Regions from separate parts of the Homo sapiens genome. Here region 2 is linked to region 1. The links come from fine-mapping of genetic effects on gene expression. Tissue or cell type: monocytes after LPS. Region 1 holds a variant in brackets; the other region holds the start of a gene. All regions are shown on one strand. Distances are from middle to middle.

Region 1 (11,288 bases):
CAACATAGTGAGACCCCAACTCTACAAAAATAGTAAAAAAATATCAGCCAGCCATGGTGATGTGTGCCTGTGGTCCCAGCTACTTGGGAGCTGAGGTGGGAGGATCACCTGAGCACAGGAGGTAGAGGCTGAGGTGAGCCATAATCATGCACTGCACTCCAGCCTAGATGATGAAGTGAGACCTCTGGGTATGACAATACGCCTGTTCCTACACCCAATTGGAGGTGACATATAGCTGGGCTGGGAAATGACTGGGCCAGATGAAGTGGCTCATTCCTGTCATCCCAGCACTTTGGGAGGCTGAGGCAGGTGGATTGCTTGAGCTTGGGAGTTCGAGACCAGCCTGGGAAACATGGCGAGATCCTGTCTCTACTAAAAATACAAAATTTACCTGGTGTGCGCCAGGCGCGGTGGCTCACACCTGTAATCCCAGCATTTTGGGAGGCCAAGGTGGGTGGATCACTTGAGGTCAGGAATTCGAGACCAGCCTGGCCAATGTGGTGAAACCCCTTCTCTACTAAAAACACAAAAATTAGCTGTAGTGGCACACGCTGGTAATCCCAGCTACTCAGGAGGCTGAGGCAGGAGAATCTCTTGAACCCAGGAGGTGGAGGTTGCAGTGAGCCGAGATCACGCCACTGCACTCCAGCTTGGGCGACAGAGTGAGACTCCATCTCAAAAAAAAAAAATAAATCTGGTGTGGTGGCATGCACCTGTAGTCCCAGCTAACTCAAGAGGCTGAGGTGGGAGGATTGCTTGAGCCTGGGAGGTGGAGGTTGCAGTGAGCTGAGATCATGCCACTGCACTCAGCCTGGGCAACAAAGTGAGTCCCTGTTGCCAAAAAAAAAAAAAAAAAAAAAAAAAAAAAAAAAAAAAAAGGGACTGATGAACTTTTTTGCCTTTAGGCCAGTCTTACACATGTATGTTTCCTTTCCCTAACAGTATATCCAAACAGAGACCTTGGCAGTACATCTTCTAAGCCTTTGGGAAATTGAAGTAAAATCTGTAAATGATAAAACAAGAACACTCATCAAGTAAACCCAAAAGACAGTTAAATACTGGGGGCTGTTGGTCACTACTCTTTCTATTAGTCTTACTGTATAATTCAGATTAAAAGAAAAGCCCCAAAGCTGTCTGACCAGATAATCATATGAAAGTCTGATTATCACCGTACCTCCCCTGATCAGCAAAGGGAATCTGAATTGTTTTATATTTTCAGTAAAAGACTTAAACCAAAAACCGTACTTAATATCATTAAAAACCCTTTGTTGTAGCCATTACGACTGTACACCCATTTAAAAAATGCATGGTTTCACGGTGAAACCCTATCTCTACTAAAAATACAAAAATTAGCTGGGCATGTTGGCATATGCCTGTGATCCCAGCTACTTGGGAGGCTGAGGCACGAGAATCGTTTGAATCTGGGAAGCAGAGACTGCAGTGAGCTGAGACAGGGCCACTGCACTCCAGCCTGAGCAAAAGTGAAACTCTTTCTCCAAAAAAAAAAAAAAAAAAAGTACAGTTTCTAGATAAAAGACAAGTTATAAACCCAAGATGATAGTTGATATTTTTCCTAGAGCAATTTTTAAAAGATATACTAAAAGGAAAAGATGGAAAAGTTACTTCAGATAACATCTTAATGAGTGAATAAATGATTGCTACATTCACTAATGAAACACCAACCCAGCTATTTTGGATAGTTGATGAATCCTTAAGAAACATTAAGTCAGCCCGGTGCAGTGGCTCACGCTTGTAATTCCAACACTTTGGGAGGCTGAGGTGGGCGGATCACCTGAGGTCAGGAGTTTAAGACCAGCCTGGCTAACACGGTGAAACCCTGTCTCTACTAAAAATACAAAAAAATTAGCCGGGCACGATGGCGGACGCCTGTAATCCCAGCTACTTGGGAGGCTGAGGCAAGAGAATCGCTTGAACCCGGGAGCCGGAGGTTGCAGTGAGTCAAGACTGTACCATTGCACTTCAACATGGACAACAAGAATGATACTCTGTCTCAAAAAAAAAAAAAAAAAAAAAAAGAAACATTGTCGGTAACTATAAATTTCTATTTCATAAAAATTATTCCATTTTCCTTGTGTCTAGTTTAACATGACTGTTTCATTCTTCTGATGAAAGCAACCATAATAGGTTAGCTTGACCATCTCATTCTAACTAATGCTTTAATAATGATGAGGCTTCTTAATTCAAATTCTGTTAATAATCCCAAATTTCTCAAATATTACCCTAAGAATAGTTCCTTCCCTAAGTAACTCTGTAAAATGTAGCTATTAAAATGTTAACCGAGGAACATTTAACAGATCATCTAAATGCAGTATTTTCTTATTATAATTTGTTTGTTTTTTCCTACCAGAATATAAACTCTATGAGAACAGGGATTTTTATCCACTGCTGTAGTTTCAATGGCCAAAACAATAACTGACACGTAGAGAAGTTCCAGAAATATCTGCTAAGTAAATTATAATCACAATTTACTACAACATGATTCCAGCAGTCATTAAAATGCAAAAAATAAAACAGAAATTAAAAGGATTTACTTGGGTCAGTCACCTTTATATAGACTTCTGAATATGAAGTCCCCCCAAATTATCTGCTAGTAGTTCTGAAGACCTAGAAAAAGTTGAGACAAAAATTAGTACAGAAAGAAATAACATTGATGAACACACAGAATGGAATTCTACAGCTATATTATGTTTCTGTATACTGTCTTGTTTATCATCCTACATCTATACTATCTCGTTTACCACCCTACGTCCATCCGGCACTGAATTTTTTGCCCTTTAATTTTTTATTTTTCCATAAAGCCAGAAACGAGATGGTAGAGAAGGAAATTATTTGACTTAAATGGTAAATACTTATGTCACTGGCTAATTTTTCCTCTTCCTTCAAATTAGAATTATCTCATTTTCCAAGGGATCCCTTCTTTTTCTCTCTCCTAAAAGGTGCTTCCCTTCTTCACTGAACACTTCTCAAATTCAGAGTTCTTTCTTTAACCCGATGTCCGACAACTGTCCAGCCAGACAAGGGGCCATCATCACCCATTAAATTACAAGTCCATATTTATTACTCCTTTCTTTCCCTTCATTCCACACCATCTAGTTTCTTGTCCTACTATAAAAAAGAGTGATAAAAAGGAGTCAGTTCTATTTGCGGTCAAATGGAAACATGCTTAAAAAATGGCGCTTAAATTAATTTTCTACCTTCCAAAAAGGAAGGGAAAATGATCAGTATCCTTTAAGTCTCTGGTGTTTTTTCCTAAAAGTCAAATTTAACGCTAGCCAGAGTTATTAACACCTTAAAGATTAACATATCATAAACATGAAAAGAGCTATTCATAGGATTCCAGTTACCAAGCATTAGAACGCATGCATTTCATTTATGTTGATGTTTTATGATTTCTAATTTTAAAAAACTGGAAAATAAACTATTTTTTAGAAACGATTTAAAATAGTACACCCAGAATTAGAGAAATAAAAGTATCAAAGTAACAGTAAAAGGAAGGAAGAAATAAAGTAAATCAAGGAAGAAGCAATAGCAAATAAGAAAGAAAAAAAGGAAAGGAGGAAAACAGCGAAATAGATGTGAGTGTACAGTAGGGGGTAAATGAATGCATCACAGTTTCAATTTATTATTAATTTAACTATTTCCAGAACAATCCATCAGAATCCACAGGAACACTAGTAAGTTCTTGGATTCAGAAACAGACACAGCCTGTATCTTCCAGTAGTACCGAGTACTCTCTTTAGGAGGTGCCATTTACATACAGTTTCTAGGGAAAAGGATGTTAAATAGAACATGCCAGAAATGTTTCTTAATTACCCCATCTTTTTAATTGGTTTCAGAAATGGCCAACAGTCTCTGTATCATCATTCTGACAGTCTCTTCTCTATATGACTTGCTGAAAGCACAAGACCTGTATGATCTCCCTGGTCACTCACAGAGAAGACAAACAAAAAGTGTTTTATGAACAATTCCAACAGATTTCAGAAGAAGAAATTGCATCAGACAGGTGAGGCGGAAGCAGCTGGCAGACAAAAGTCCAATAAACAACCAATCCAACGAAAGAAATTCAGAACAAGTCTGCTTCAGTAATCCTGTGAAGAGGACTGGCAGGAAGAGGAGTGCCGCTTCAGAAAGAGAACAGGCCTCATATGCTTCAGACAGTCTTTGTATTGAGGCTGTGGACCTTGGCCATTCTCCCAGAAATGATGCAATCCTGATGAACAAGATCTGCTGCCAGAGAAACAATTGTTAACAGCCTATGCAGACAGCAACTCAGCCAAGGAGCAATCTCTGATCAACTCTCTCCATAAACCAACAGAACGCCAAAATCTCTCTTCCTCAATTTCAGTGTCTGACAAAACATAAAGTGAACACAGTATATATTAAGATACATAAGAACAAGCCATTTTCTCAAAGGGTCCTTTTTCTTTTAATTCCTTAGGCTGTACAATATCCATTATTAAATTTCAGATAAAATACTGAACATTTTTTACTTTTATAAATACAATTATCCAAGCACATCAATAGTAATAACATAAATATGAAAATTTATACTTATTTTCCTCATTCTCATAAGAAAACCTTTTTGGGAGGCAGTGGCTTCCCTAAGCATAAAAACTGCTCTGAAATCTATCATCCAGCTATAACATTTCAAGTAAACACAAATATACATACACTCTAATTCAGAGACAGAAAGTATATTTCATAGATATTTTTGAAAGTAGATAAAAGTCAATGTTAAATATTGGCATCTATCAGAGAAAAGAGAAAATCTAATCTTGCTTAGGCTGACATATAAGGTATGCTGATAACAACCACTTTTTTGCAGGGCAACAATATTACTTCAGATCTTACTAAAGGATCAGATTATTTTCATCTTATTAGCCACGATTTACTAATTTAGAATCTAACTTAAAAATATCCTCAATTTAATAATCTTCCCTAGAATCCTCATCTCCTAGGCCTGGTTTCTTTTTCAGAAGTTTTGGTATCAGGTTTTTCACACAGTATTATAAAATTATAAAAAGTTATTTTTTTCTCACTAAATAAAAGATCCTGTATAAAGCACTTCTCTAAACTTCAACTAGCCAAAAGTCATGACTAACCAAATTTCTTCCTTTTGAAAGCAATAACCCTTAAACTGGGATTCATGAAAAAACACAAATATCTAAGATATATCCTGAAATAAATCTATTCAGCCCAATCTATTACTTCTATATACTACTAAATAACGAAAATGAACAGATATACAGAATAGCTCTGAAGCACTAAAAAAATCTTTAATAGGTCAATAAATGAATAAATTTAACTCAGGAAGAGAAAACACTTTTTGGGAATATTTCAAAAGGGTTAAAGTAGCTAATAAGTTTTTAAAAATCCAATTTCTGAACTTGATTATTCAAAATTTTGTTGTTACATATAGGCTGAATTTCTTCTTAAATACATCTATAGTTCTTCGATTTATCTTTTGAATGACTTTACCTTGTATGAGAATGAATGTGGCAGCTGCATTATATACTTATCTTCATCTCCATCTCAAAGTCAAATATCTCAAGTAAAATCACCGTAGCTGTACCATGACAAACAGCCTTTTACCTTAGGAGAAGAAAAGTATGCTAGGAAAAAGCACTCTTAGAGGCCAGGTGCGGTGGCTTGCACCTGTAATCCTAGCACTTTGGGAGGCTGAGGCAGGAGGATTGCTTGAGCCCAGGAGTTTAAGACCAGCCTGGGCAACATAGTGAGACCCATCTCCTAAAAAAATAAAAAAAGAAAAGAAAAAAAAGGCACTATATTAGGAGTTAGGAGACTTGAGTTCTAGCCTACAACATAATTAGTGACCTCAGAAAAATCACTTTACATAGATGAACCCTAAATTCCTCAAAGTAAAATCTTCATTGTGTTGTCTTCCTGCTCCAAATTTCTATGAATCCTGGCACTGCTGCCAACTAGCTCAGGCAATTCATAGAATGTCTCAAAGTCTCAGTTTTCTCATCTGTACAATAAAAAAAAAAAAAATACCTGTTGTGCTGACTCATAGGAGCACATGGAACAGCATTTGTAGCAAGTAAGAGCTTAAATAACTTTCTGGTCCCTTTAAGTATATGTGAAGAAAGAGGAGCTGCTGCTAATAACCTGAATATGGCTAAACACTGTTTTTACTCTTCTCCAAAAGCATATATTTCAAGTTTGCTACAGCAGATAATGTGGAAAGAAAAAATGTGAGAAACATGAAAAAAAAAAA[T/AAT]GAGAGAGAAGTGTTAAGCATAAGAAGAAACAAATATGAGTTACTGGAAAACAAAGAGATGAACTCTAAAAGAGCACTTGGAGATACAGTGAAAAGTTCATGTATTTGGAACAGTAAAATTAGGCTTATAATCTGAAGCAAGTTAATGCAAGCAAAGAATTTTAGGGGTTCGGGACTGAAAGGAAAAAAGAAAAGAGAGAAACACTGATTGGGGTAAGCACTGAGAGACAGGAAACATCATGATTTAGTAATTTAAAGCAAAAATAAAAATTTCCTTTTCTCCCATCTCTTCTACAATACCAGTTTATTCCTTGATTCCTTTGCCTAAATTTATACTCCCTCTAGGAGCTACTGAGCTCGGCACAATAAACCGATGTCTATAAGAAATCTAAGTTTACTAGAATAAAAGGCCATTAAAAGACAACTGAAAAAAAATCCTAGTCTATATTAAGAATTTCCTTCTCCGTAAAAAACTTCATAATTAGTGCGTATTATAGAGACCAAGTCATACTTAGTAGTATGTGGAGCAGAAGAGGGGAGTGGCAGTAGGATAAGACTACATATCATAAATAACAGAATTATTATTATTATTATCTAAATATTGTGATCATAAATTATTTTAACACTGAAGAAAAATATTTTATTTACAACCCATTTAACAATGATAAAAAGGTATTTACTGCTCAACTAACCAACAATACACAGACTCTTTGTAACCTTAACAACAATCAGGAAGATTTTAGACTTCTAAGTACCAAATAAAGATGATGCCCTCAAATAATTTAGACTGACTAAACCTCTTTAAAGAGTTATACTCTCAACACTTTCTGAAGGTTCTGTTCTACTGTGTTCTGAGGCTCAGAACATGTGTTAGAGACCAATGTACCAAAGTAGAGTAGGAAAAGAACTTCTCATATCTCTACACGTGCCTCCTCTCTGTGAATTCAGATCTTCTTCATTTTCAAACCCCAAAATGGGAGCCACTTTTACTTACTATAGATGAAGTGGGTTGTGCACATTTATGAGCCATTAATATCTGTATTTTTACTTTCATTAATTTAAGCAAAATTTCTCCAACCGATGAACAAACAGAAATGAAGAAATAGAGCTACAAAAAGATTAACTTGTATGAAGTTCACTACACACCTACAGTAGTAAAGTTCAGAGGAAAGAAAATTAAGATGTTAATATATAGCTTGTTTATTATAGTAATTACTACTTACCTTAGATAGCAACATCTGAGTTATAACTAATTGTTTTTATTTTTATTTTTGAGACAGGGTCTGTCACTCAGGTTGGAGTGCTTTGGTGCAATCACAGCTCACCGCAACCTCAACCTCCTGGGCTCAAGCGATCCTCTCACCTTAGCCTCCCAAGTAGCTGGGACCACAGACGCATACTGCCATGCCCAGCCTTGTTTTTATTAAGTACCAATTGGTGCTATGTAAGACAATTAGGTCCAGATAAAATTCCTGGCTGTCTTGGGATTTATATTATGTAGATTTGCTACTTTTTTCATTCATTCATTCAACAAACATGAAGTAACTACTATTAATATACATATATTACTATGTTAAGTGCTATTTTAAGAGGTTTATTTTATCCAAAGTAGAAAAGGGTAGGCAACTTGCAAACTGTTCAGGTTTGCCTATGTGCCAAGTACTGCATTTATACAACCATGAAGGGGGAGAAAAATCCTGTAAGTGGGCCGGGTGTGGTGGCTCATGCCTGCAATCCCAGCACTTTGGGAGGCCAAGGCGGGTGGATCACCTGAGGTCAGGAGTTTGAGACCAGCCTGGCCAAGATGATGAAACCCCGTCTCTACTAAAAATACAAAAATCAGCCAGGCATAGTGGTGGACACCTGTAATCCCAGCTACTTGGGAGGCTGAGGCAGGAGAATCGCTTGAATCCAGGAGGTGGAGGTTGCAGTGAGCCAAGATTACACCACTGCGCTCTAGAAACCCTAAAATGAAAGTTATCTGCAAATTCCCAATGTTTATGTATGTGATTCACATTTTTTTTTTTTTGAGACGGAGTTTCGCTCTTGTTGCTCAGGCTGGAGTGCAATGGCAGGATCTCAGCTCACTGCAACCTCCACCTCCCGGGTTCAAGCAATTCTCTTGTCTCAGCCTCCTGAGTAGCTGGGATTATAGGTGCCCACCACCACACCCAGCTGATTATTGTATTTTTAGTAGAGACGGGGTTTCACCATGTTGGCCAGGGTGGTCTTGAACTCCTGGGCTCAGGTGATCTGCCTGCTTCAGCCTATGTGATTCACTTTTAAGACTACTACTGACTGGATGTCCTGTAAAGTTCTTACACACTAAATATTAGATCTTAGTTGCATTTCTACAAATTTGGGCTAGGAGCTTCAAAATAAACCCTAGCTGAAGCAATATTCAGAACCAAAGTACTTTCTTATAGTTGTCCTTTGACATAACCTTTAATTCTTTTAATAGACCGCACTAAGCTCTAAATTTCTTCTTTCTGTAATGAAAAAAACTTATGCTAGCCATCTGTAATCTAGCTGGCATCTGTAGAGGTCTGACTGCAAATGCAAATAAACTAGAAGATTTGAGTGCTTCGTTTCAAACAAATTATCAAAACTCTGTTCTAGCACTTTGGGAAGCCGAGGCGGGAGGATCACAAGGTCAGGAGATCGAGACCATCGTGGCTAACACGGTGAAACTCCGTCTCTACTAAAAATACAAAAAAAAAAAAAATTAGCCGGGAGCGGTGGCAGGCGCCTGTAGTCCCAGCTATTCGGGAGGCTGAGGCAGGAGAATGGCGTGAACCCGGGAGGCGGAGCCTGCAGTGAGCCGAGATCGCGCCACTGCACTCCAGCCTGTGCGACAGAGCAAGACTCCGTCTCAAAAAAAAAAAAAAAACAAAACTCTTGTTCTAGCAGTTCTGCCTCAGAAGTTTAAAATATGATGCTTCATTTTTAATCACCTTTGGAAAGAAACCTAGACACTGTAAGAGACTTATTTTAGAATATGTGGGGAAAAAAATAAAGAATAAAATAATTAAAAAAAAAAAAAGACTTGGCCAGGCGCAGTGGATCCCGCCTATAATCCCAGCACTTTGGGAGGCCGAGGCGGGCGGATCACGAGGTCAGGAGATCGAGACCATCCTGGCTAACATGGTGAAACCCCGTCTCTACTAAAAATACGAAAAATTAGCTGGGCATGGTGGTGGGCGCCTGTAGTCTCAGCTACTTGGGAGGCTGAGGCAGGAGAATGGCGTGAACCCGGGAGGCGGAGCTCGCAGTGAGTGGAGATCACGCCACTGCACTCCAGCCTGGGCGATAGAGCGAGACTCCGTCTCGGGGGGAAAAAAAAAAAAAAGACTTATCTATACTGATTTACTAAAAGACAGGAGACAAAATATGGACTTCACTTTCATCATAGGAACAAAATCACTTGGTATACTCCATTATGACACCCACATGGTCCAAATCCATGCCCTGGCCAAATGAGGGAAAAAACCCTCTTTTTTGTTGTGCTGGCACTAGCACCTGACTGAAGAGCTATTCTCCTTTGAAATTTTTGGAGACTTTTAGCAAACCACATCAGTCGCCTCCCTATGATTTCAAGGTAGCATTATATAATAGCAGTGAACTGGTCTCACTACCTCTGGGGTGTGAACCCTCCAATCTACTCTATATTCTTCCATGATGTTATCCCTTCTAGAGCATAACTTTGGTTACTATCATTGCATTATCTGAAATCTACAAATAATGGTTTCCTTAATGCTTATTGGGCTAGTCCAAACTCCTGTGCCTGAATGGAACAAGAACATTTTTGTTAATTAGCTACTAACCTGTTTCCTTCTCCTTCAAAACTTTGTTTACACTATTCATGCTTTTATTTTTTATCTTAAAAAAAAAAAACTTTATGGTGAAAAACTTCAAATAAATATAAAACCAGAGAAAACCCAATGTTCCCTACCCAGCTTTAATCAACAATCAATTCATGGCCAATCTTATTTTATCTATAACCTCTCTTCCTTCCAGGATTAGTCTACAGCAAAATCCCCAAAATACCAGTTGTGTCTATGACATCTGGTGGGTGGAGCTATCCCTTGTTTATCCTTATAATGGGTATAAGGATACATAAGAGGGGCATGTTTATCATAATGATAGGTCATGGTGATAAGAAATCAAAGGTCATAATTCTTTAGCAAAAGTTCCAATGAACAAGAAGCTTATGCAATTCAACAATTGCTAGATTTGCTGAGTAATGCTTAGGTTTTACAATTATACACTTGTGGTTATTAAAAAAAGTCTTAATCATTGAAATATTTTAAGAAAAAAATCACTGTAAACTATTTTTATGACACGAGTTTGTTGATAAATTTCTTGCATTCTTGGGAGCAAGAGCTAACTGCAAGTACATACATGACCCACAGCTGCGACACAGCATTCCTATATTTGCTATATGCCAATATACAAAAATGAATGACACAGGAGAAACACCCCAAAGCAGGCAGACAGTGAGTGTGATATTCCATAAATCTGTGTACTAAAGATAAGGACTGATTATATCACAAAAGTGACGGCTCACATTTGAGGTAGATGGCCAGCTGTTCTTATTTTTAGTGAGCAATCTCTTAGAGTACTTGGAGTCTTAGAGTGCTGACAGAAGACTGAGGGCAAAAAGGCTCACCCACTCTGAGGCACACCTTCCAATGGAAAAATGAGTCAATAATAACACTGAGTGTCACAAACCAAAAATATTTTGGATGCACGTGGAAGATTCCTATTTGAACCACAAAAAAATTACAAAGAAAGTAGCCAGGCATGGTGGTGCACACCTATAGTCCCAGCTACTCAGGAGGCTGAGGTGGGAGGATGGCTTGAGCTCGGTGGGTGGCTTGCAGTGAACTGAGATTGCGCTGCTGCACTCCAGCCTGGGCAACAGAACCAGAGCCTGTCTTTAAAAAAAAAAAAAAGTTCAACAGCAATGGGGCTGGGCAGGGTGGCTCACACCTGTATCCTAGCGCTTTGGGAGGCTGACTTAGGAGAA
Region 2 (11,288 bases), 25 kb after region 1:
TCCCCTCTGATAAAATGTATCCAATAGTCATTGACTGCTGTTAACTATGGCCTAATTTTTCATAAGTTATTTCAACATGGAGAGGATAAAGCAAAAGTAATTATCTGCAAATCTGTACTTTGCACTTTATTATTTCCCCATTCAAAGGTAAAAATGAAATAGTCATTCTCCCCAGAAAAGCCAGAATAATTTCAGAAAGTCAGTTCCTGGACACAAAACAGTATCAAAAGATATAAAAAAGTTTTCAAGGGTATAACTTAAGTAAATCCTTCTATGAAAAGGGCCTGTATGATCCTCTAAAAAATGATAATATCAAGAGCACAAAAGGTTCCAAACAACAGGAAATTCGAGTGTAAAAGCAATTATTTTATATAGCAACTTAAGCCACAGAGTAAAAAACTACAAACATTTTTATCTTAAACCCTAAGTATGTCAAACAGCCAGTATACATGAAATCATATTTATCTGCTATTGCATCTTATCTATGTGATAGTAATAAGAATTGGAACCTCCTAAAATAGTATCCATTAAAGGTTCTGTTTCATTGGTCTGCTTTTATTACTGGGAAAACAATGTGAGCCACATTTGTGAATGACAAAACTCATTTCCATTCTTTTTGGTTCTCTGCCACAAATGCCAGAGTGATACTACAAATTATAGATGTTTGTGAGATTTAAGTACATTTACACGAAAATGAACAAATCAAAATTCTGAGAGAAAAAAGTATAGGATACACGAGTCTTGGGGAAGAAAAACAGCACACAGGAATATGTCCAGTATTGCATATAATTGGTGGTGGTGGTTCTCCTTCAAGTTTTTCCACGCTCAGACTGTTTTGCTTAATCAGAGATCATCCTAATGTTCAGGAGTTGTGGGGGAGGGGAGATCACCTAAGGGGCTCAGAGGCCATCTTCTCAGTATCCTGAACTAGACTTATTCGATTTCTGCATATTTCTTCTGGTCTGTCCTACATTTCAGATGGATTATGGCCAAAGACATATATTTGTGATGTCAGAAGGCTATATCCAACATGTATATAATGAATCAATCTTATAAGTCAAACTCCAAAGAAAATATCTAATCTGGAGAAGTTTATTACTAATATACAAATTAAAAATATTTATTTAGAAACCACTCCAAAATGGCACCTTTTTAGAGTTTAAGAGTTCAAGCTTAGTAAAATGTTTAGCAAATCGTCTATAAGGTAAATGTGGTCTAATCGAAAGGATGGAGACACATAACAAAATAATAAGAATTGATTCTATGATTAAAGAGATGGAGGAAGGCATGATATGTGAGCTGCAGGAAAAAATTCCTGTTATTTTCTTCCTATTGTGGTTATCAGAAAGATTCTTAAAATTATTACTTGGGTTTTTAAACTGATTGAAAAATTAAAACTCTAATGGAACTTTTAGTCCTATCCAAGCACAAATGTCTAGATAAAAAACAAAAATCTGCCAAAAAACAAAAATCAAATCAAACAAACAAAAAAAGAAAGGCTTTAACCATGATCCAGTTTCCAGATGCCAATATCCATAAATGGGTAGGAGATTATGAATTACTAATTCCCATCTCCCCACCAATAAAAAGCAAACCAGCTCAGCAGTGAAAATTCCCAGAAAAGCAAGGTTTCTTCTTAGTCCTGAAGCAGCCATCGCCTAAGTGCTGCTCCCTGCAGCCAGCAGCATTAATGGACGCTGCACTGCTGTCCTTCCCTGGAGACAGCAGCCAGCACTACTCAAGCTTCTCACGTAGCAACCAGAGCTCCAGAGCCAGCAGCTGCTGCTGCCTTGTATACTCACCCCTGTGATCCAACCCAAAGGAACAACCTTCTCTTTACCCCACCCCCACTCCTTACACACACTTTTTTTTTTTTTTTTTGGACCAGTGCTCCATGCCAGAAGGGCTGGAATTATGCTTTTAAGAAAGAAACAATCCTAAGGTCACCCTTTTAAACCAAGGCCTTTTATTAGAAAAATCAACATTTACCAAATTCTAAATATCCATTTTAATTAAGCCAGCAGTTTAGGAGTGAAGATTAAGCTTTGGTCTTTTGAAAGCCAATTTCCCAAGCACTCTACAATCTAATTTAAATTTGCAGCTAGAAACAGAGCCTTGTGTCATGTCCTACCAAAGGGCATAATTCATTTTTCTACACATAATGACAGTCTGAGTAAACCTTAAAGACTCTAATCCCATAACAGGCCAGAATTTTTGGCTACAGAAGAGAACTAATGATCCTGAGAAAACTGGAAGAAATCCAATAGAAAAAAAAAAGCCCTACGTCCTCTATGGAGCCCAGAAACCTCTGATTACGTGGGTATTCTCTGCTTTAGTCCTAGCTCAGATCCCACACATCTAAAATTACCACTTAGAACTTTCTGTGACCTAAAAACATTAATAATATAAAATTAACAACCAAAAAATAATTTCAAATAGGGAGTACACACTCTCCTAAAAAGCTCAGCACACTCCACTCAGCTGGATCCTCCCCAATCACAAGTATAGCTATGTAACATCTGTCCAACAAAGAAATGTAAATATGACCTTGGTCACAAATATGTCATCTAAAAACTTGTTTAGTCAACTGATGAAGGTAATTAGCACAGAACTTGGGGATTCGTTCAGTACCTATGTGCAGGAAGGAAACTGGAGAAATGAACTTAAATATAGACAAAGCCCAGTGGAACCCAGAGGTCTGGGAAAGAAATGAGTTACCGGTGAATACATTGCACAAGTAACATGAGAAAGCAGAAAATGCAGGTCATACACGCACCCCTGACCCAGACCAGCAGAGCTGACTGCAGCATCCATATCCAAGAGAAAGACCACTGACGCCCAAGAAGTGAGACAAGCAAGGACTCTATAGAATCAATTAGCATAGAAGGGGCTTTCCCAACAGTTTAACTTTCCCTCTCATGCGATTTACCTACTTGAACCAGGGCTCTTTCCTACACTCCTCTTCACATTCCCGACTTACACGCAGAGGGAAAGAGAATTCATAAAGGGAATATTTTTCTGCCTTTGAAGATATTCTCACAAGATCGTTCTCCACGCCCAAGGCAAGTAAAACGACACAATCTGGCTCAACTCCAGGCTCGAACCCTACACATTCAACGAGGCTATCTCAGACACGCTGTGGCACACGCCACGGGGAGCCAGAGAACGTGTGGTGGGGGTGGCGAAGGTAATGCCTTTGGGAAGCAGCCATCTGAGGTGGGAAGCCAGAAAACGAGAGGGAAGGCGTCCAGGAAGATTACGGAGGGGAGATCGCGGCCCCCAGAGCGATCAGAGTTGTCTGTCACAAGGCCGCGAGAACGGGGGTAGGGAGTGGGGGATCGGGGAGAGAAAAAAAGTATGCCTGTGTATTTCGAGCGGAGGGCAGCAAGAGGCCTCTCCTCAAGGGAAAGGTAAACGTGGAGTAGGCAGTTCCCAGGAAAGGGGGTGAAGAGGCGTTGGGGGAGGGGAAGCGTCCTGACCCAGGAAAAACATGAAAGGGGGAGTTGGGTCGCCTAGATTAGAGGGGGATCTCTCTCCCTGGGAAAATGGGGTGTTGCAACGGTGTGTGCAAGGCGGCGAGGGGGGTGAGAAGTGGCAGCATCCTCCTAAGAGCTTGGGGAGGGCCAGGCCCACGACCCAAGGAGAGCGAGCGCGGGGAGACGGAGGAGGTGACCCTTCCCTCCCCTGGGGCCCGATCGTGAGGTTCGGTCTCTTTTCTGTCGGACCCTTACCTTGTCCCAGGCGCTGCCGGGGCCTGGGCCCGGGCTGCGGCGCACGGCACTCCCGGGAGGCGGCAGGACTCGAGTTAGGCCCAACGCGGCGCCACGGCGTTTCCTGGCCGGGAATGGCCCGTACCCGTGAGGTGGGGGTGGGGGGCAGAAAGGCGGAGCGAGCCAAAGGCGGGGAGGGGGGGCAGGGCCAGGGAAAGAGGGGGGCCGGCACTACTGTGTTGGCGGACTGGCGGGACTGGGGCTGCGTGAGTCTCTGAGCGCAGGCGGGCGGCGGCCGCCCCTCCCCCGGCAGCGGCGGCGGCGGCGGCGGCGGCGGCGGCGGCGGCAGCTCACTCAGCCCGCTGCCCGAGCGGAAACGCCACTGACCGCACGGGGATTCCCAGCGCCGGCGCCAGGGGCACCCGGGACACGCCCCCTCCCGCCGCGCCATTGGCCTCTCCGCCCACCGCCCCGCACCCATTGGCCCACTCGCCGCCAATCAGCGGAAGCCGCCGGGGCCGCCTAGAGAAGAGGCTGTGCTTCGGCGCTCCGGCTCCTCAGAGAGCCTCGGCTAGGTAGGGGAGCGGAACTCTGGTGGGAGGGGAGGTGCGGTACACTGGGGGGATGGGTGGCTAGGGGGGCCGTCTGGTGGCTTGCGGGGGTTGCCTTTCCCGTGGGAAGTCGGGAACATAATGTTTGTTACGTTGGGAGGGAAAGGGGTGGCTGGATGCAGGCGGGAGGGAGGCCCGCCCTGCGGCAACCGGAGGGGGAGGGAGAAGGGAGCGGAAAATGCTCGAAACCGGACGGAGCCATTGCTCTCGCAGAGGGAGGAGCGCTTCCGGCTAGCCTCTTGTCGCCGATTGGCCGTTTCTCCTCCCGCCGTGTGTGAAAACACAAATGGCGTATTCTGGTTGGAGTAAAGCTCCTGTCAGTTACGCCGTCGGGAGTACGCAGCCGCTTAGCGACTCTCGCGTTGCCCCCTGGGTGGGGCGGGTAGGTAGGTGGGGTGTAGAGATGCTGGGTGTGCGGGCGCGGCCGGCCTCCTGCGGCGGGAGGGGAGGGTCAGTGAAATCGGCTCTGGCGCGGGCGTCCTCCCACCCTCCCCTTCCTTCGGGGGAGTCGGTTTACCCGCCGCCTGCTTGTCTTCGACACCTGATTGGCTGTCGAAGCTGTGGGACCGGGCCCTTGCTACTGGCTCGAGTCTCACATGAGCGAAACCACTGCGCGGGGCGCGGGGGTGGCGGGGAGGCGGGCGTTGGTACGGTCCTCCCCGAGGCCGAGCGCCGCAGTGTCTGGCCCCGCGCCCCTGCGCAACGTGGCAGGAAGCGCGCGCTGGAGGCGGGGGCGGGCTGCCGGCCGAGACTTCTGGATGGCGGCGGCCGCGGCTCCGCCCCGGGTTCCCACCGCCTGAAGGGCGAGACAAGCCCGACCTGCTACAGGCACTCGTGGGGGTGGGGGAGGAGCGGGGGTCGGTCCGGCTGGTTTGTGGGTGGGAGGCGCTTGTTCTCCAAAAACCGGCGCGAGCTGCAATCCTGAGGGAGCTGCGGTGGAGGAGGTGGAGAGAAGGCCGCACCCTTCTGGGCAGGGGGAGGGGAGTGCCGCAATACCTTTATGGGAGTTCTCTGCTGCCTCCCGTCTTGTAAGGACCGCCCTGGGCCTGGAAGAAGCCCTCCCTCCTTTCCTCCTCGCGTGATCTCGTCATCGCCTCCATGTCGAGTCGCTTCTCGATTATGGGCGGGATTCTTTTGCCTAGGCTTAAGGGGCTAACTTGGTCCCTGGGCGTTGCCCTGCAGGGGAGTGAGCAGCTGTAAGATTTGAGGGGCGACTCCGATTAGTTTATCTTCCCACGGACTAGAGTTGGTGTCGAGGTTATTGTAATAAGGGTGGGGTAGGGAAATGGAGCTTAGTCATTCACCTGGGGCTGATTTTATGCAACGAGACTGCGGATTATCACTACTTATCATTTTTGGAGCATTTTTCTAGAGACAGACATAAAGCATGATCACCTGAGTTTTATACCATTTGAGACCCTTGCTGCACCACCAAAGTGTAGCATCAGGTTAAATCTTAATAGAAAAATTTTAGCTTTTGCTTGAGAAACCAGTGCTTCCCTCCCTCACCCTCTCTCCCCAGGCTCTCTACCCCTTTGCATCCCTACCAGGCATCTTAGCAACTCTCACTCATACTTGATCCCATTTTCCATTTGTTGTACTTGCTCCTCTAGTATTCAGACATAGCACTAGCTTTCTCCCTCTCTTGATCTTGGGTAGCCTGGTGTCTCGCGAAACCAGACAGATTGGTTCCACCACAAATTAAGGCTTGAGCTGGGGCTTGACTCTTACCCAGCAGTGCTTTTATTCCTCCCTAGTTCACGTTCTTAAATGTTTATCTTGATTTTCATTTTATCCTTTTTCCTTAGCTGGGATTCTGTCCCTGACCGTCTTCACAGTCCAGGTGATCTTGACTACTGCTTTACAGAGAATTGGATCTGAGGTTAGGCAACATCTCCCTTTTTCTTCCTCTAAATACCTCTCATTTCTGTTCTTACCAGTTAGTAACTGATCTCAGATGCCTGTGTGATAGCTTCCAAATTGCTGTCTCTGTCTTTAGTGTTATCTTTTGATCCATCTTACATCTTGTTAGGATGATTGTCCTAAAGGAAGATAGAGCATGAAAATGACAGGTGAAACTCCATTACTGGCTTGTACTGTTTACAGCAAGTTGTCTAACCCGCGGGCCGCATGGGACCCAGGACAGCTTTGAATGCGACCCAACACAAATTCGTAAACTTTCTTAAAGTTTTAGGAGTTTTTTTTGCGGGGTGTTTTTTTTGTTGTTGTTGTCTGTTTTTTTTTTTTGCTCATCAGCTGTCCTTTATATGTGGCCCAAGACAGTTCTTGCAGTGTGGCCCAGGGAAGCCGAAAGATTGGACACCCCTGGTTTACAGGATGAATTCTGTTCTCGTGAATGTGATGCATAAGGTCCCTGGATAGACTTTCCTCAATTTAACAGCTTTTTCATTTTTCACTATTTTCCACATACTACACACACAAATATGACCTCTCTCCTGAAGTCACATGGAATGAATTGCAGTTACCCAAATCATAGAGACGTCATATATCTTTGTGGGGTGGTTCTTTTTGGAATGCTACCCTTGCTGCTTTTAATCCTGCAGATTCAAATGTCATCTCCCCTTTGGTCATGCCTTCCATGGTCTGTTGTTCTATGACCCAAACTGCCCTTTTAAAAAAGCAGTTTTCTTCTGACTCCTGAGCAGTTTGTACTGCGTGGGTCATAGTAATTCTGGGGTTGTTGTCATTGCTGATTTAAATTACCTTAACTATTCTGAGCTTTTTGAAGGAATAGTGTCTTGTACTCCTGAGCTCCTAGTATACTCTGATGTCTAGCCAACTTTAAGTAAATGGAGTGAGCGACATGTAAATGTCTTTATGGTTTGACATTTTATTAATCTTGAGCATTGGAAAAGTGGCTGGTATGACTAAAGAACTGAATTTTTATTTTTTATCTAATTTGAATTGCAACTGTGGACAGTATAGCTGTAGCCCCGGACTTGTTCTGTGGATTACAGAATACGTGGACATTGATGGTTTTCTCTTTTTACTGAGCAGTAAGGAAATAAAAGCTGAAGCTCTCTGGCCCATTACATTTCATTTAACTGCTTGTTTTGTTTTATTTATTATATATTTAGCTGAAAGCTAAGTCCAACAAACCATTTTTAAAGATGTGCCTGCCTTGGACAACAGTGAAAGCAAGCGTTAATGAGTTTGGATTTCAAAAAAAAATGCATAATGAATTTTAGGGAGGTGAGATTCCATTAAACTGTTACAGGAGCTACATAGTTAAATATATCAGAACTTGAATGAAGAATAGGTCTGTGTGATACAAATGAACCCAGCCTAAATTTCTGTCCTACAAGTTTTCACTTCCTGGAAACACTTGATTGGAGGAGCTCTAAGCATCATATCTTGAGTTATAGAAAACAATCACAAAGTAAGTTTTATCCTGAGGAATTATAATACCAACATTTTAACACCAAATGCTTTTTATATTGCTAATACAGTATCTTACACATTTTAATTATCTTTTTTTTTTTTTTGAGACGGAGTCTTAGTGTCACATACTGGATTGCAATGGCATGATCATGGCTCACGCAGCCTTGACTTCCTGGGCTCAAGTGATCCTCCTGCCTCAGCCTCCTGAGTAGCTGGAACTACAGGCACACGCTTCCATGCCCAGCTAATTTTTTTGTGTTTTTTTTTTTGTAGAGATGGGTTTTTGCTGTGCTGCACAGGTTAGAACTCCTGGGCTCAAGTGATCTTCCTGCCCTAAGCTTCCCAAAGTCCTGGGATTACAGGTGTGAGCCACCGCCCTAGGCCATTAAATATACTTTTTAAAAAGACCCTTATGTCAGCGATCTTCAGGCCTCCTGTGTGTGGAGACAGTTGTCTTAATGTAGATTCTCAGATCACCCAAAAATTCTGAATTCTTTTGGGGAAGGTGGAACCCCACAGGGCAGGCAGTATAACTCAGTATCTTCAAGTTCATTTGCTGACTCGGATATGCCTATTTACCTGCCAAAAATGATTACAGTTTCAGAGAAACTCTTCTCAATTGTATAGTATGTGACCCTCAATTTTTCCTCAAATGAACTGTTTTTTCCTCCTCCTAAAAAATAACAGAATGGGAATTTTGAGAGGCAAAGAGGAATAGTAATTAATATTTTTGGAAACTTGCAGGTCAGGTTTTCCTTTTAAAAGGAATGTTGAAATATATTCTTTCGAACAAGAGAAGTTCACCTTATTTGTGTTTCTCCTGCTTAATTGCAATCCTTAAGGAAAGTGATTTTTCAGTGCCTAAGCACAGAGCTGGAAGCTCAATAAATGTTAGTTTTGTTGGTTTATACGTGAAATTGATTCTCAAGTAATAGTTAAGCTCAGAAAACATATAAACAAGGCTTTTTGGGAGAGACTTCAGGGTCCCATTTAACCTACATCTCCTAATATTCTATTCATAGAGGAAACTGATGCCTCATGGTCTCTGAGTACATCTATCCCACCATTCAGTTCTTCTTTGGGTTTCCTGTACTAATCATTGCAGTTATCCTTTTCCTGCACCTTACTTCCTTGGGCTTTTTGTTTAAATTAACCAGCTACCTATCTCCTTTTCAAGTAGTTACATACTATTTCTTACCCTTATAAGACAAATTTATTAAGTATATTACACGCTTGTACTTGGATGAGAAAGCTGGTGAAACTTTTGTCAGGGCTAGTGTGTGTGTGAGATTTGCAAAATGTAAACTTAGGTTACTTCCATATATTTTTTGTGAGTGGAGGTTTGGCATAATTACATAATTCTCTTTTACAACACTCTGGTTTGACTGTTAGGTTAATTGTAGAGCACCTTGTTAGGTCACAAATCCAGAAGTCTGGTACTGGACTTTGCAGGTTGCTTTCTTAGTGGCATATTAGTTTATATTAGAGCACATACTTCTCAAGAAGCCTTTTTTTTCTTATCTGTGACTCTCTCTTCTTGAGATGGGATAATGTATTGGATTATTAGAGAAGTGTGAGTATTGAATCAGATAGTTTTATTTTATCTAGAGCAGGGTTAAACCTGATGAATTGTTTCTGCTCTCTCATGGAGTATATCTTCTTGGTGACAAAGACTTTTCTGTCTCTGATTTTTATCTTAGTCGTGGTTACATTTAATAATCCTGCTTTCCAGCTTTTCCTAGAGATCAGTCATCAGTGACCTTTTGTCTTGATACTTTGTCACCTTTTGTTTTCTGGTTTTGGGTTTTTTTTTTCTTTTTTAAACATATGTAACATTGGCTTTTCCTGCTGACAACAGTAACAGAGTTTCAGATCATGTTTATAGAATGGTTATTTCATCACCTAACTAATCTCACCTCTAGTGTATGGATTCTGGTAAAGTCAGTCAACAGTCTTCACAGCCTTTTCTATTTTTACTGACCTTGATTTAAAATCTAATCTTAGACCTTGAGGTATTGCTTACGAATAGTGTAATAATGAGGTACTACTTATAACAAATAATGGTAACATACTCTAGTGCGTACTATAGGCAAAAGCTAATGGAAACATAGGTAGAAGAAATGAAGTAATAGTTATTGAATGCTTTTTGTGTACTGCAGGTGTGGAAACAGGAAGAGAACTAGAACTGGAAGTAAAGCATTGAAGATGTGACTGAATTGCTGCAATCTCATGATCAAATTTGAATGGATGAGGAGTTGCTTTTTAGGGATGAGCAAAGAAAGTGGTTTCTCGAGATGGAATCTACTGGTGAAGTTGCTGTGAACATTGTTAAAATGCCAATAAAGGATTTAGGAATTACAGAAACCTGGTTGATAAAGCAGTGCCAGGGTGTGAGAGAGTTGACTTCAATTTTGAAATAAGTTCCACTGGCTGGGTGTGGTGGCTCACACCTGCAATCCCAGTACTTTAGGAGGCCGAGACTGGTAGATCATTTGAGGTCAGGAGTTCAAGACCAGCCTTGCCAACATGGTGAAACCCCACCTCTACCAAATTAGCCAGGTGTGGTGCACACCTGTAGTCCCAGCTACTTGGGAAGCTGAGGCAGGAGAATCTCTTGAACCAGGGAGGAGGAGGTTGCAGTAAGCCGAGATGGCGCCCCTGCACTCCAGCCTGGGTGACAGAGTGAGACCTTGCGTTTAAAAAAAAAAAAAAAGGAAAAGGAAAAAAAAGTTCTACTGTGGGTAAAATGCTATCATGCTATCAAACAGCATCACATGCTACAGAGAAGTCTTGTGAAAGGATGTCAGTGTGGCAAACTTCATTGTCTTTTAAGAAATTGCCACAGCTATCGTAATCTTCAACCACCACCACCCTGATGAGTCAGTAGCCATCGTTAACGTTGGCGTAAGACCCTCCACCAGCAAAAAGATTGTTAGCATTTTTTTAGCAGTGATGTATTTATCAATTATACATAATGCTATTGTACACTTCTTAATAGACTATGGTATAGTGTAACCATAATTTATGCACTGGGAAACCAACAAATTCATGAGATTCGCTTTATTGTAGTGCTCTGGAATTGAGCCTGCCGTGTTTCTGAGGTATACCTGTGTATTTAGTATGTTCCTTGTATATAAAACCCCATTTTATAGGGTAGGAAACTAAGGCTTAGAGTTTGAGCAATTTTCCCATAGATAACACCAATAAATTGAGGGCTGCAGAGACCACTTAAGTGGTTCTCTTAACAGTAGTCTAGACATGACGTAATGAGATTTGGCTTAGGAGTGACAATGGTAAGGAAGTTAAAGGATTCAGGAACCAAATACCAGTTATTGAGAAGAAAGAATGGCCTCAAAACATCACTTCTCAAGGAAGCCTTGATACCCTCACCCTTACTACACTGTATCCTCCATTTGAATGTTGTCAAGAGCTCTTCTCACAATTGTAAATAATAATTGTGTAATTTTGTTTTTTTTTTCCTACTTTAGGTTGCTCCTTGAGGGCAGGACAGTTCTTATGGCTTTATCCGTTGCGTAAGCACAGAGAGGTCTGCGAGGTCAAAACT

Evidence for each region. PIP is the estimated chance that this variant, and not a neighbour inherited with it, causes the effect.
Region 2: THUMPD3-AS1 starts here. The variant in region 1 is the best candidate, but not a certain one, in a credible set for the expression of THUMPD3-AS1 in monocytes after LPS (Quach 2016, PIP 0.75).

The regions. Positions count from the first base shown.
Region 1 is chr3:9,415,804-9,427,091 of GRCh38, reverse strand. SETD5 (SET domain containing 5) reads right to left here. Exons shown (of 23, transcript NM_001080517.3): 2 at 2,566-2,625. Among named protein-coding and RNA genes, the nearest start is that of SETD5, 24 kb to the right of the region's middle. The variant T/AAT (reference allele first, on the strand shown) is at 6,260.
Region 2 is chr3:9,390,421-9,401,708 of GRCh38, reverse strand. It overlaps THUMPD3-AS1 (THUMPD3 antisense RNA 1), which reads left to right and starts at 5,086. Exons shown (of 4, transcript NR_132781.1): 1 at 5,086-5,149; 2 at 11,212-11,288. It overlaps SETD5 (SET domain containing 5), which reads right to left and starts at 4,094. Exons shown (of 23, transcript NM_001080517.3): 1 at 3,732-4,094. RefSeq lists an enhancer at 3,227-3,276 and a silencer at 3,887-5,196.